4 linked regions of the Homo sapiens genome follow. The protein of the gene in region 2 purifies or fractionates together with the protein of the main gene of each other region. This does not show direct contact. Each region holds a gene or a part of one and is shown on either strand. Other genes may lie near its edges.

What was found.
Region 1: the proteins of IRF5 (region 2) and CEP152 purify together in Homo sapiens (affinity purification with mass spectrometry; one large-scale study listed by BioGRID and IntAct). This does not show direct contact.
Region 3: the proteins of IRF5 (region 2) and PSMB7 purify together in Homo sapiens (affinity purification with mass spectrometry; one large-scale study listed by BioGRID and IntAct). This does not show direct contact.
Region 4: the proteins of IRF5 (region 2) and OGA purify together in Homo sapiens (affinity purification with western blotting; one study listed by BioGRID). This does not show direct contact.

Annotation. Positions count from the first base shown.
Region 1 is NC_000015.10:48,755,570-48,759,069, reverse strand, and holds part of CEP152 (centrosomal protein of 152 kDa), read left to right. Parts: intron 1-2,516; coding exon 2,517-3,167; intron 3,168-3,500. UniProt on the Homo sapiens protein: Necessary for centrosome duplication; the function also seems to involve CEP63, CDK5RAP2 and WDR62 through a stepwise assembled complex at the centrosome that recruits CDK2 required for centriole duplication.
Region 2 is NC_000007.14:128,940,927-128,944,426, reverse strand, and holds part of IRF5 (interferon regulatory factor 5), read right to left. Parts: exon of another isoform or gene 3,003-3,500; intron 2,357-3,002; 5' UTR 2,346-2,356; coding exon 2,151-2,345; intron 1-2,150. UniProt on the Homo sapiens protein: Transcription factor that plays a critical role in innate immunity by activating expression of type I interferon (IFN) IFNA and INFB and inflammatory cytokines downstream of endolysosomal toll-like receptors TLR7, TLR8 and TLR9.
Region 3 is NC_000009.12:124,408,943-124,412,442, forward strand, and holds part of PSMB7 (proteasome subunit beta type-7 precursor), read right to left. Parts: coding exon 3,410-3,500; intron 1-3,409. UniProt on the Homo sapiens protein: Component of the 20S core proteasome complex involved in the proteolytic degradation of most intracellular proteins. This complex plays numerous essential roles within the cell by associating with different regulatory particles.
Region 4 is NC_000010.11:101,811,945-101,815,444, forward strand, and holds part of OGA (protein O-GlcNAcase), read right to left. Parts: intron 1,663-3,500; coding exon 1,611-1,662; intron 1,184-1,610; coding exon 1,086-1,183; intron 363-1,085; exon of another isoform or gene 308-362; coding exon of another isoform or gene 304-307; intron 1-303.

The DNA of each region.
Region 1 (3,500 bases), on a different chromosome or scaffold from region 2:
TGAAATATTTTAAAAGGAAATTTAAGAGGGAGAGAGAGAAGAAACAATATGATTGTGAGGATATGTGTCTCAGAGCTCAGAAGTCAAGTAGAATAGTAAAGTTGAGTACAATGTAGAAAATAAAACAGGCCAAGAGATCTTTTCATAAGAACATAGAAGGCTGTATGTTTGTGAAAGCAGACATATAGAAATGAGAGAAAAGTGTTTTTGTTGCTTCTCAAACTTCAGCAGGCCTGAGAATCACTTGCAGGGTTTGTTAAAGCATAGCTATCTGGGCTTTCCTCCTAGAGATAATGATATAGTAGGTCTGGAGGGTGTCCTGGGAATTTGCCTTTTTTTTTTTTTTTTTTTGAGATGGAGTCTTGCTGTGTTTCCCAGGCTGGAGTGCAGTGGCACAATCTCAGCTCACTGCAACCTCTACCTCCTGGGTTCAAGCGATTCTCCTGCCTCTGCCTCCCAAGTAGCTGGGATTATAGGTGCCCGCTACCTCGCCTGGCTAATTTTTGTATTTTTAGTAGAGATGAGGTTTCACCATATTGGCCAGGCTGGTCTTGAACTCCTGATCTCAGATGATCTTGCCCACCTCGGCCTCCCAAAGTGCTGGGATTACAGGTGGGAGTCACCGCACCTGGCTGGAATTTGCATTTCTAACAGGCTCCCAGCTGGTCTTTGGACTACACTTGGATGTAAGTAGCACTATTCCAGATAATTATATCAGCCACAAAAAATAATGTCAACATGTTGTGCATCCTTCCTCCAAACCAAAAGAGGTCCAGAAAGGGCCGGTTCCATAGCATTGGCTATAGAGTTATTTTAAGATTAGAGTGATTAGTTGAGATCTGTGACAGTGTGAAGACAGTTTCTAGAATTCAGAAGTAGTTAAGTTGGTTCAGTGGTTCTCAAACTTTGCTGCACATTGGAATAACTTGAGGATCTTTAAAAAATACTGTTGCCTGGCCCCTACCCTTAAACTTTGTTTTGTATGGGCCCTGGCCTGGGCATCAGGATTTTTAAAAGCTGCTCAGGTGATTCTAATGTGCAGCAAAGTTTGGGAAGCACTGAGTTGATGAATGCTGTCAAATTCTCTTTGTAAAACTTCACATGAGAAAATGCACATTTTGGTAAGGTTGGGCAGGTTATAAAAATTCTGTGGAATCCATCACCTCTATCCGAGTCACCTGGGAATGACTTCCAGGCATCCATTGCAACATGACCTGTTTTCTCTAAAAACACTATTTAAACATGTTTCAAATCACTACTGAATTATTCTGCTGGTAGCAAAGGAATTTTGCAGTGAATTCTTTTGTAAAGCTCACCTTAGATAGTGGGTTCCTTTAGCAGAAAATTTATTTAGTAGGTACTCTATCCCATCATCCCAGCCATATATATAGTATTGATCAATGGTAACCACCATTGTCTAGGCCAAGCCTTTGGAGATGCCCAGTTCTGTCTTTTGACACTAGTGCGTCCTTGTGCCTTCTTTGAATTCAGTTAGGAATTCAGTCAGGAATATTAAAAGTGAAAGGGACTCAAGGCCATTATCTACTCTACTCCTTTATATAGGTGAAGATGTTAGTGCCAAAGAGATTAAGTGACTTTTGCAAGGCCATGCATCCAAAAGTAATAACTACATAAGATTTATTGAGTCCTTATCATCTGCCAGGCTCTGGGCTAAGTACTTTAAATGGATTATGTCCTTATGTCATTTAATCCTAAAGGATGCTATCAAATTGGCATTGTAATTATCCCCATTTTATAGATGAGGAAATTGAGGCTCAAAGAAGTTGAGGAATGGGCCTTTAGTTCTTCAGCTGGTAAGTTAATTCCAGCAGTTTGTCTCCAGATTCTGTTCTGTTAAGCATCTGTGCTAGGCTTCCTCTGCAAATTGGTGTCAGGATTGGAGCTTAGGTTTTTTGATTTCGCTATTACTTTTTAGTTATGTACTACCTGTTTTTTTCTGTGATCCACTAGTTCTATTATTCTGTCATACAAACAAATTAGACTAATGAAAAATGACTTTTTCTGTTTGGTATTGTCCTTTAATGAACTGTTCTAGCCACTAAAAGTGCATTAAAATACAGTTACACTTATCAGCAAGTAATTATGCAGGTGTGTGCTATATTCCTAAGTAATAGTAAAAAATCCTTATGAGTCCGCTTTTGCTTTAGGTAAAAGATACTTAATTTGTTGGGGGCACAGATAAAATTTGAGATTGTATCTGTATTAAGAAAAGTAATATGAAATTTTTTCTCACATTAGTTTTGGCTAATTATATAATTATATGTGTGAGTGTTTATGTGTCTATACATACATATAAACATATTTATGTATATATTTTGACCAATTTTAGTGTAAGTATAGTTTTTAGAATAATGTCTTATCTAAAATCATGTTTCCTTTTAATTTTGATTTTACATTTCCTAGCTTCAGAGGTTAACCAAAATAGTTACCTTAATTTTTTTGCGAAGGAGGAGAATCATAAAGACTTTCAAAATGCATGTTGTTATGTTCTTTAGATATCATTTGCTGTTTCTGAAGCTAAAGAGAAATGGAAGAGTGAGCTTGAAAATATGAGGAAAAATATACTTCCTGGAAAGGAATTGGAAGAGAAGATTCATTCTCTTCAGAAGGAACTTGAGTTAAAGAACGAAGAAGTCCCTGTGGTCATCAGGGCTGAGTTAGCTAAGGCTCGGAGTGAATGGAACAAAGAAAAGCAAGAAGAAATCCACAGAATCCAAGAACAAAATGAGCAAGATTACCGGCAATTTTTAGATGATCACCGAAATAAAATTAATGAGGTGCTTGCGGCAGCTAAAGAAGACTTTATGAAACAAAAAACTGAACTACTTCTTCAGAAGGAGACAGAATTACAAACTTGTCTAGACCAGAGTCGTAGAGAATGGACTATGCAGGAAGCCAAGCGGATCCAACTGGAAATCTATCAGTATGAGGAAGACATCCTGACTGTACTTGGGGTTCTTTTAAGTGATACCCAAAAGGAGCACATCAGTGATTCTGAGGACAAGCAGCTTTTGGAAATCATGTCGACTTGTTCTTCAAAATGGATGTCTGTGCAATATTTTGAAAAACTAAAGGGCTGCATACAGAAAGCATTTCAAGATACACTTCCTCTGCTTGTAGAAAACGCTGACCCAGAATGGAAAAAGGTATGTTCCTGAGAGTGAGAGAAGGTATTGAACACCAAGAATGATTATAGAAGTTGTATATAGTGTTTTTTCCTTTTTTCCTTTTAAATTTTAGTAGATGTAAGTCTTATGTTTTTGTCAGTGGTTTAAAAAAGTTTCTGTAGCGAAATCCAAAGGTTTGCATGTTTCGTTGCCAAAAAACTTTACTACTTCATAGTGTCACAAATACAAGACAAGATTTTAGCCTCTAAATATCTTTTTCCTAAAGAATATTTAGGACAAATACCTAATGCATGCGGGGCCTAAAACCTAGATGACAGGTTGATAGGTGCAGCAAACCACCATGGCACATGT
Region 2 (3,500 bases):
AAATATGTACCCAAAGTTTTAAAAAATAAGCATTGCCTTTGACCCAGCAATTTTCAACTCTAGGAAATCAACCCCCAAAATAATTGAGGATGAAAAAAAGGGAAGCATTAAGACAGCCTACATGACAATGTGGTTTTTAAGTTCAGGTTTTAAAAGCAATCTCAAGTATCTAAAAACCAAGACTCAGTGACCAAATTGTGCTAAACCATTCCAGTGGAAATTCTACAGTCACGAAAAGTGATGTGGACGTATGTTGGAAAGGAAAGCTGATCCTGATATTGGGTGAAAAAAATCCAGGCTATAAATCAAGATATTCACTTGATTCCAATTTTGCATTCCATATACACACATGTGCAAAAAAACTAAAATGTAAGCAAAAACTATTATGCGAGGTACATCCTAGCATTAAGATTATTGGAGAGAGCACAGTGGCTTGCGCCTGTGATACCAGCTACTCAGGAGGCTGAGGTGGGAGGATCACTTGAGCCCATGAGCTTGAGACCAGCCTGGGCAACAAAGTGAGACCTCATCTTTACAAATATCAAAATCAAAAAATTAGGCTGGGCACGGTGGCTCACGCCTGTAATCCCAGCACTTTGGGAGGCCAAGGCAGGTGGATCATGAGGTCAGGAGTTCAAGACCAGCCTGGCCAACAGGGTGAAACCCTGTCTTTACCAAAAATACAAAAAAAAAAAAAAAAAAAAAAAAAAAAAAAAAAATTAGCCGGGCATGGTGGCAGGTGCCTGTAATCCTAGCTACTCGGGAGGCTGAGGCAGGAGAATTGCTTGAACCCAGGTGGCAGAGGTTGCAGTGAGCTGAGATTGTGCCATTGCACTCCAGCTAGGGTGAAAAAGCAAGACTCCATCTCAAAAAAAAAAAAAAAAATTAGCTGGGCATGGTGGCATGCACCTGTAGTCACGGCTACTCAGGAAGCTGAGACTGGAGGATCACTTGAGCTGAGTTGGAGGTTGTGCTATGACTGCACCACTGCTCACCAATGGTGCAACACTAGGCAACAGAGCAACAACTCATCTCAAAAAAAAAAAAAAAGAGTATATATGTACAGTTGTAGTACATCAATTAAAAAAAAAGATTGGGCCGGGCATGGTGGCTCACACCTGTAATCCCAGCACTCTGGGAGGCTGAGGTGGGTGGATTGCTTGAGTCCAGGAGTTCAAGACCAGCCTGGGCAACATGGCAAAGTCTCTACTAAAAGTACAAAAAATTAGCCAGTTGTGGTGGCAGGCACCTGTAATCCCAGCTACTCAAGGAGGTTGAGATGGGAGACTCACCTGAGCCTGGGAGGTCGAGGCTGCAGTGAGCTGAGATCAAGCCACTGCACTCCAGCCTGGGTGACAGAGTGAGACCCTGTCTCAAAAAAAAAAAAAAAAAAAAAAAAAAAATTGGAATCTGGTCAACAGTGTGAGGCCCTGTCTCTAAAAAAAATTAGAAAATTTAAACAATTGAAAGATTGATGATGTATCTGAATCTTATATTAAAAATAGTTTGTTCCCAACACAAAGAAATGACAAATGTTTGAGATTATGGATATGCTAAGTACCTGATCTGATCACTGTGCTTATCAAATCACCACTGTGTACCCCATAAATATATACTAATTTAAAAATAAAATTTTTAGAAAGATGATGATCGTTGGCTTCCTTTAGCATATGCGTGCACTGAACAAGTCCTCATGAGTAATAGGAGTGAGACGAGCAAAGGGTGAGTAGGACGAGTTATGGGAAGGCCTTCTGGGGACCCTCAGTCCCCACGATGCTCTAGGGTGCAGGTTAGAAAAGATGTGCCCTAGGCCAGGCGTGGTGGCTCATGCCTGTAATCCCAGCTACTCAGGAGGCTGAGGCAGGAGAATTGCTTGAACCCAGGAGGCAGAGGTTGCAGTGAGCTGAGATCGTGCCACTGCACTCCAGCCTGGGCTACAGAGCGAGACTCTGTCTTAAAAAAAAAAAAAAAGGAAAAAGGTGTACCCTGTGTCTACGTCTGCATCCCCTTAGTCCGGGCCCGGCATCAGCAGCAGCATGGTAGCTGGGCGGGTGGCCAGCCTCGAGGAGCTGCCTGTGTGCGTTATGTGCGCTCCTCTTCTGGGGACAGGGTGCCCTGGAGGTCCAGCCAACCTCCTCCCCGGGGCTTACCTTGAAGATGGTGTTATCTCCGTCCTGGCTGGGACCATGCCTTGTGGCATGCCTCCAGGGGATGCAGAATAATTTCTTTTCCCCGTTGACCCATTGAAGCCCTGGGTACTGGCAGCTGTTCACCTGGGCCACCAGCCAGGGCTTCAGCCGCACGCGGCGGGGTGGGGTGGGAGCCACTGGGATGGACTGGTTCATGGCAGAGGGGTCTGCAGGAGAAAGCCAGAGGGGAGCCTCAGCAGGTCTGCAGGTGGATGGGGACAGGGTACTCAGAGGTCAAGCTATGGACCACAAAGGATGGTCTCTCCAGTCCATCTAGGTATTTAAGGCCAATTCTCTTTTCCAAGCATCAGCTTTCTTGTCTAGTGTCATGGAATTTTGTGTTTGGAGGAAGGGAAGGAGAGTTACGAGTTAGTGAATGCTGCGGGCGCGGCCCCAGGTGCCCTTTACCGGGCAGAGGCATCCATTCTCCAACTGCTAACAGCAGCAAGCAGCCCGTTGGCCAGAGAACCGCCTTCCACTACTCACACCACAGGTTAGGCCCACCCCTTGCTCTTGGGGGGCAGCCCACAGCCAGTGACTGCCTGACACCAAAAGCCCGGCTGTCTTGTCTCAAGCTGGCTACCTGGGACAGCGAGCGCTCTGTGGGATCAGCCCGAAGACAGCCTCCTGCTCAGTCTACACCCCTAGTTCGATTCTTCCCTGCCCAAGTTTTCTCACCCTCCATCCCCTGAGAGTTCCCTCCGGAGATGCCCTCAACAAGAATCTCATCTGGAGCTCCCAAGGACACCTGCCCTCAGAGGAAAGCAGTTTCTCAATATCTTTAGAGAAATCCCATCAACCAACTCAACCCACCTCCAATGACAGCAGGCACCAAACAGATGTTACCTCTCTAGGGCCATTCATCTAGGTTCTTGGTCCTCCCCCTTCTCCTCCCACTGGACACGCATTCGGGTAGCACTTAGGAAGGCCCTAACGCCTGCCGGAGCCTGTTAGGAAGGCTACAGGAAACAGAAGCCACAGCTCTAACTGCTACCTACCCAGGGGCACGAGCCCCGCCTCCCAGGCCACAGCTTCACTGCCTCCCTGGAGTCAGGCCAGAGGGACCCTGCCTCCTCCCCTTCACCTGCCCAACTCCCTCTCCAGCCCAGAACCGGAAACTCTCCACAGTCCTGAGTCCCCTTCTGTCCCTCTCCTCCCCTTACCCATGCCCTTGGCCCTTCACTTGAGACCCCTGGGTGGAAGACAGAAAGGACTGGGTCATTACACAGCACAGCCCATCAGAAGTGAATGTGTCGGTCAGCAAGTAAGGAGCAAACGTTCGAGCTGAACTCCCTGTGTCTGGGCCTGCTT
Region 3 (3,500 bases), on a different chromosome or scaffold from region 2:
ATGCACTGTTAGGTGAGAAGACTAGGCTATACTACAGTCAGTACAACTATAATCCCATTTTCTAAATATTACTGAACTTATTTTTAAAACCTTGAAGGGTGTGTAACAATCTCTTAGCACTAACTGCTCGTGGGTGGCAGGAATCCAGGTAGTTTTTTACATTCTTTTTGTTCATATCTTCCAGCTTTGTTTTGTTTTTACCATGAACATGTACTAGCAATATAAAAGGAAGAGAGGAAGGGAAGAACTTAAGAGACAGAAGACTGGAATAACATACACCAAACCAAGAGTGATGCTCCCTGAATGGCAAAGTTTTCATTTTGTTCTTTGGGCTTTTCAGTATTTTCTAAATTTCCTACAATAAATGTACATTATGTTTATAAGAAAAAAAGTTACAATATAAGAGTCTCTACGTATTCAAGTAATAGTTTCTAGAACACACAACAGCATTTCACTAACATTTTTATGAAACTCAACAAGGAGGTTCCATGCTCACAGAACAAGCATTACTTACATCAACTACATATAGCCAGGATAGGTGTGAGATAAAGGCAGTGCTTAAGTAAGGGAAAAGACATCACTTCTGCTTATCAAACCTTATTTTCTCACTGACTCACATACAAGGAAATGGGCTGTTCAGAAAAAAAAAGTACAGCAGTACCAAGAACACCTTGTACTCTTTTTCAGACTGAATTTTACGGGGCTCTAACTACGCAGTAGGCTCTGTAGTATGCAAGGTCAGAGCCTAGCTTCTTTATTCCTGTCCTCCTCAAAAGTCAGATAGACAGAAACTATTATCCTCATTTTATTGAGAAAGAATCACCCAAATTTATACGACAGTCAGTGCTGTAGGTGGGAGATGAACCAAAGTTCTAAAATCAAATCCTAAACTCTTTCCTTATACCACTCTCATTTTATGTAACTCACCAAAAATGTTAAGAGGACATAAAAGACTATAATTATGCTGGTTTATATTTTTAAATGGTCCTCAAATTTTGATAAAATTTAACTTTTACAAAGTATCTTGAACTAAAAAATGACAAAACACTGAAAAAAGAGAATTTAGAATTTTTTTTTTTTTTTTGAGACGGAGTCTCGCACTTTCACCCAGGCTGGAGTACAGTGGCACAATCTCGGCTCACTGCCAAGCTCCACCTCCCGGGTTCATGCCATTCTCCTGTAGCTAGGACTACAGGCGCCCGCCACCACGCCCGGCTAATTTTTTGTAATTTTAGTAGAGATGGGGTTTCACCATGTTAGCCAGGATGGTCTCAATCTCCTGACCTTGTGATCTGCCTGCCTCGGCCCCCCAAAGTGCTGAGATTACAGGCATGAGCCACCGCGCCCAGCCGAGATGTTAGGATTCTTAAAACATTCTGAAGTGATTAACAGAAACATTTGCTAGATTTTTTTGCTAATTGTTTTAAATGACATTACAAAGAATCTTGAAACATCTTATTTGCAGCAATTTTACAAGCTTAAAAATTGCCTTTATTACATAGACACATCGTGTAGAAAAAAAGTTTTCAAAAAAGCCTTATATATAATGTACCAAGCAAGCCACCAGAGGGAGCTTTATATTTAAAATTAAAATCCACAAATCTTTTCAGAAATCTGATCAATAGGTGTGCTTTAACAAGTTCTACTCACTGTACTGGGAGAATTTGGTTGGCAATAATTCTCCTGGATTAGAATAATGATACGTACACAAACATAAAGCAGCAATTGGATAGACAAGGCTTCCTATCCATATGACTCTAGGCTTTGGTCTCATTTGTAAAATGGGAACTATACTACTGGCCTTGCTACAACCTCATATACACTACTGAAAACCCACAGGCCATGCTAGACACATAGATGAGGACCCGCAAATTATCAGGAAGGCCAGGGCCCTGAAGGGAACAGTGAAGTGAGCCAGGCAGAGAAAGTGACAGAGCACCCACTCCCACTTCTAAGGCAACAACCACCAATGAGTTCCCGAAGATTACGGCCACATGTTTCCAATGTTTTCAAAAGACAGAAATCTAGACTTTTTTTTTTTCTTTTTTTTTGAGACGGAGTCTTCTTCTGTCACCCAGGCTAGAGTGCAGTGGCGTGATCTTGGCTCACGGCAACCTCCACCTTCCAGGTTCAAGCGATTCTCCTGTCTCAGCCTCCCAAGTAGCTGGGATTACAGGCAAGCGCCACCATGCCCGGCTATTTTTGTACTTTTAGTAGAGATGTTTCACCATGTTGGCCAGGCTGGTCTCGAACTCCTTACCTCAGGTGATCCGCCAACCTTGGCCTCCCAAAGTGCTGGGATTACAGGCGTGTGCCACCGTGCCAAGCCAAAATCTAGACTTTTAATTCAAATCTCCCCATTTACAATTGTTAGCCACTATTTAAAAAGAAAAAAAGGCCATATGACCCAAACAAATTTCCCTACAAGCTGATGGCCTATGAGCCACCAGTTTAAAATCTTTACTGTCTATCCGTGCTCCCCTTTAATTCTCACAACCACCCCACTAGGGGCAGGTATTATGATATCCATTCTACACAGAAGGAAAAAGGCAAAGAATTTGTTAAAGGTAAGGCAAGTCCCAAAAGGAGAAGCCAGTATTCCAACCCAAGACTAAATGCCCAGGCTACTTCTCCTAAAATCACTGCCTCTCTTATGAGAAGCAAATGAGAAAACACACTTTGAAAACTGCCAAGACCCATACAAACATAAAGTAATGACGCAATTATTAAAGGAGAAAGAGAAACAAAACTACTAATATGAGCTGTGAGTCAGCAGAGAATGAAGGTCAGGTCAGGCAAGCTACTGCACCTCTTTAAACCTCAATTTCTTCACTTACAAATAGGAGACGCTAATAGTCCCTATCTCAGAGTTAAAAGGATGAAATCGTGCATAAAGCGCTTTAGCATAGGTCCTGGAACAGAGTAAGAGGTAGATAAAGGTTGGTTAATATTAATATTATCATACCCACTGACAGCCAATTATAAATATCACTTTTCATTCACTGTTATTTTGCCCCTAAAGGGAGGGGGTGGGGGGAAGGAGAGACAATCATTTGGGTTTGTGTTTATGGGGAGGAGAGAGTAGTTTCACAAGACAACTTGATAGTTCCTCCAGCTATAACTTTCTTACCGTGAACAAAAAAGTTTCTCTTATCCAGTAATATCCCTATGCTCCAGGAAATGACTCAACTGGTGACATGTGATTTACTCATGAAAAAAATCAGGCCCCAGAAATTCAAATGCACCATCAAAAACCATTTAAAATGGCTCTTTAATATAACAACTGATTTCCGGAACAAAATGTGTATTTCTGAATGTGTTTTTGCTACTTTCCAGGCTTCTCTTGGCTGAAAAAAATCTAAGATATGAGAAGAAGATACTAGTAGGAATCCCCATTCTGGAAACTTACCTGAAAAGCATCTGCTTCAGCATCCGATTGGCTGTCACAACTCTGGGAAGACGGCCAGTGGAGAGGGAGTGGAGCTCCAGGTTGGAAGAAA
Region 4 (3,500 bases), on a different chromosome or scaffold from region 2:
CACCACCAGAAAGTAATTAAGTTGAAGGCACACTTAAATAGAGTAGTAAACCACAACACTAGATGGAGATGGGGTAAGCTGTAATTGCTTCTTTGTAATTCAAGAAAACTTTCAGCCTTCTGTGCCTTGGCTGGGCTCTGTAACCAAATATCTTGTTAGCTATATGCGTATACCATTTAATTTCAAGTACAAAAATGTTTCACCATTTACAAGTTCCCAAAGAAAAGCACCTCTCTAATTTGGCGGTTCAATGCTATACTACTTTTTATCAATTTTATGTAACCAACTCAACGTTAAGTATACCCATAGCAGGCCGGCCGGGCACAGGAGCTCAAGCCTGTAATCCCAGCACTTTGGGAGGCTGAGGCAGCAGAATCTCTTGAACTCGGGAGGGCGAGGTTTGCAGTTAGCCGAGATCGCACCACTGCACTCCAGCCTGGGGGACAGAGCAAGACTCTGTCTCAAAAAACAAAACAAAACAAAACAAAACCCAAAGACAGCCTATTAATGGCTTCCCACTTTCCTGGACTAGGGTTTAAGGACCAGTAACTGCTGACAAGGCCAAGCCATACTAGAGCCTGAAGCAAAAGGAACAATCAGTAGTGCTGATCCTGTCTTTACCTAAAATTTTAGCATTGTGTACATCATGAATTTCTGCATTAATTTTGGTTTTTTAAAAAAATTGCATAAAATATTATTTATGTTGATTACTTTTTGGGGGTCCCTTAAAATTTGCACCCAAGGTACGTGCCTCACTTGCCTTGCCCTGGGCCTAGCCCAGCTCCAGCACTTCTTTGCCCAGTGGCCCACTGTTTAATCCACTGGCAGAAGTAAGCAGCACAATCTATGACCACAGAACAGATGGAGTCAGCCTAGCACGCCCATGATATCACACATATGGTCATGACCTTGCTAGCGCAGAGCACTCTTTCAATCTCAGCTAACTGAATAGTTACCAGATAGAAGAAAAGGAAACTACCTACAAAATAAAAATAAAATGTCATAAAATTCTTGTACAACTACATTTAAAATATAACCGTTTTCTTCACAGATTTTGAATTTATGGATAAAAAGAAAAAGATTACCAGCTTCCTCCACTGAATACATCTCTCGCCAAAACATCCTATGTTTGTAGTCATCTTTTGGGGCATACAAGTATGTATTTAATTCCCATTTCTGGAGCCTTAAGGAGAAAGAAAATTACATATGTATAAACAGGCAACATTCATAGGCTGTCAATCTCCATTTCCCTCTTCTTGGAGCATCTCCATCTCATACAAAGCTAATATTCTATGACAGTAGCTTTTAACCTTTTTGTAATCAGTGGAATTTAAAAAAATTAAGTATTACAATGTATGCCAACATACAAAACACTCTTAAAAAACACAACAGCTCTGGGTAAGGTGAAGCCCAAAACTTATTCAGCTCCCCAGGAAAAGTTTGAAAATCAAAGGCCTAGGTGAAGAAAAAAGGGACCAAGGTAAAATAACTTCTGCAATTGAGAAACCATCAAAATGCACCTGGGCTATTCACTGTTAGTATTTCTTCAAACAAAAGAAAATGTTAAGAGTTTAAGGTTCTCCTCTCTCCTTCATATAATGAAGATTTACCTTCTAAAGAGTTCTTTTCTCTGTTCCATAACCCAAGGTCTTCCATAAAATCCTAGATTCAAAGTAAGAATGAAATTATATTCAGTTTTAAAATGTGGTAAGCTTTATTGAGAAAAGCAAGTTACAAAACATATAATACAATCCTATTTTGTAAAAAGCATAAAATACACCAAATCGGAAGGATATTTAATAAAATACTAAGGTTCCTTTAATCTTTGGGTGGTGACGTTACAAGGTGACTTTTATTCCATTTTTGCTTAGGTAATTTTTTTTATTTTTTCTACCATGACATTAGTTACTTAGGTGATAGTTATTTTAAAACAAACATCTATCATCTTTCCACTGTTGATAAAGTCCAAATATATTTAATTCCAATTTTTTAAGAGATCTCAATCTTATAATGGGGAACGGCAGCAATGTAATACAAGCTGCCAACAGTAACAATTACTTCCTAGAATGATAGTAAAACTGCTTTAGAAAGGGTGAGGGGAGGCCGGGTGAGGTGACCCACGCCTGTAATCCCAGCACTTTGGGAGGCTGAGGCAGGTAGATCACTTGAGGTCAGGAGTTCCAGACCCAGCCTGGCCAACATGGTGAAACCATGTCTCTACTAAAAATACAAAAATTAGCCAGGTATGGTGGCAAATGCCTGTAATCCCAGCTATTTGGGAGGCTGAGAAACAACAATCACTTGAACCTGGGAGACGGACTTGCAGTGAGCCGAGACTGCGTCACTGCACTACAGCCTGGGCTACAGAGCAAGACTCCATCTCAAACAACAACAACAAAAGGGTGAGGGGAGATAAACAGGTAAAGCAATTAAAAACAAATCAGAGATAGGATTAGGAAAGAATCTGACTTAATTTTATGATCGTGCTCCTCTTTTTTAAAAAAAGTTCCTGGCCAGGACTGGAATTCCAGTTACTTGGGAGGCTAGGGCAGGAGAACTGCTTGAATCCAGGAGGCGGAGGCTGCGGTGAGCCAAGATCCGCGCCATTGCATTCCAGCCTAGGTGACAGAGCAAAACTCTCTCTCTCAAAAAAAGTTCCACATACAATGATATAATCAAAGGGACCAAAAAATGCCTGAAACCACATTCCCAAGAAATTCAACAGCCTAACTGGCCCAAACAACAAACTCTCACGCAATCTTAATTACAGAGCAAAGATCTGAACAAATGAAAATTCAAGAATATTACTTCTGGTCCTTAAACGGAAAGGAATAAACAAAGAAAACTCAAGAATGTCCCCAGAGTATCCTCTAAGAGGACAAAACACTAGTTATGCACACACTGCAGAAAACAAACTCGCAGACCGATAACCTAAATGGTTGAATAAGCATCAAACTGGTATCTGGAACTCCCTAGTGTGCTCATCACAGCTCAAACCACACACTTTACATCTTGTCTAACCTTTACTTTCCACTTGTCTCAGTCTAATCATCAGTAAGAGATAAGGACAGCCTCTCAAGAGTACCATGAAGAAGGTTAATAAAAGCATTCTGAACACAAAATGTTCTACATAAACCCACACAATCTACATAAGAGACTAGTCTAAAACAAATTTCTGCAATGTATTTTAGCTCCAATCTCTAGGCAGAATGACTCCTCTGCACCACAAAAAGGACAATGACAGACCAAATTAAAATTCATTACATACCAATGTATAACTGTAGCACTTTCATCTGGACAATCTAATGTTAGCCTCTCACAAGTGATACAAAATATTCTTTTTTTTTTTTCTCAGGCGGAATCTCACTCTGTCGCCCAGGCTGGAGTGCAGTGGCACTATCTCGGCTCAATGCAATCTACGCCTCCAACTCCCGGGTTCAAGCGATTCTCCTGTCTCAGCCTCCCGAGTAGTTGGGATTACAGGAGCCCGCCACCACGCC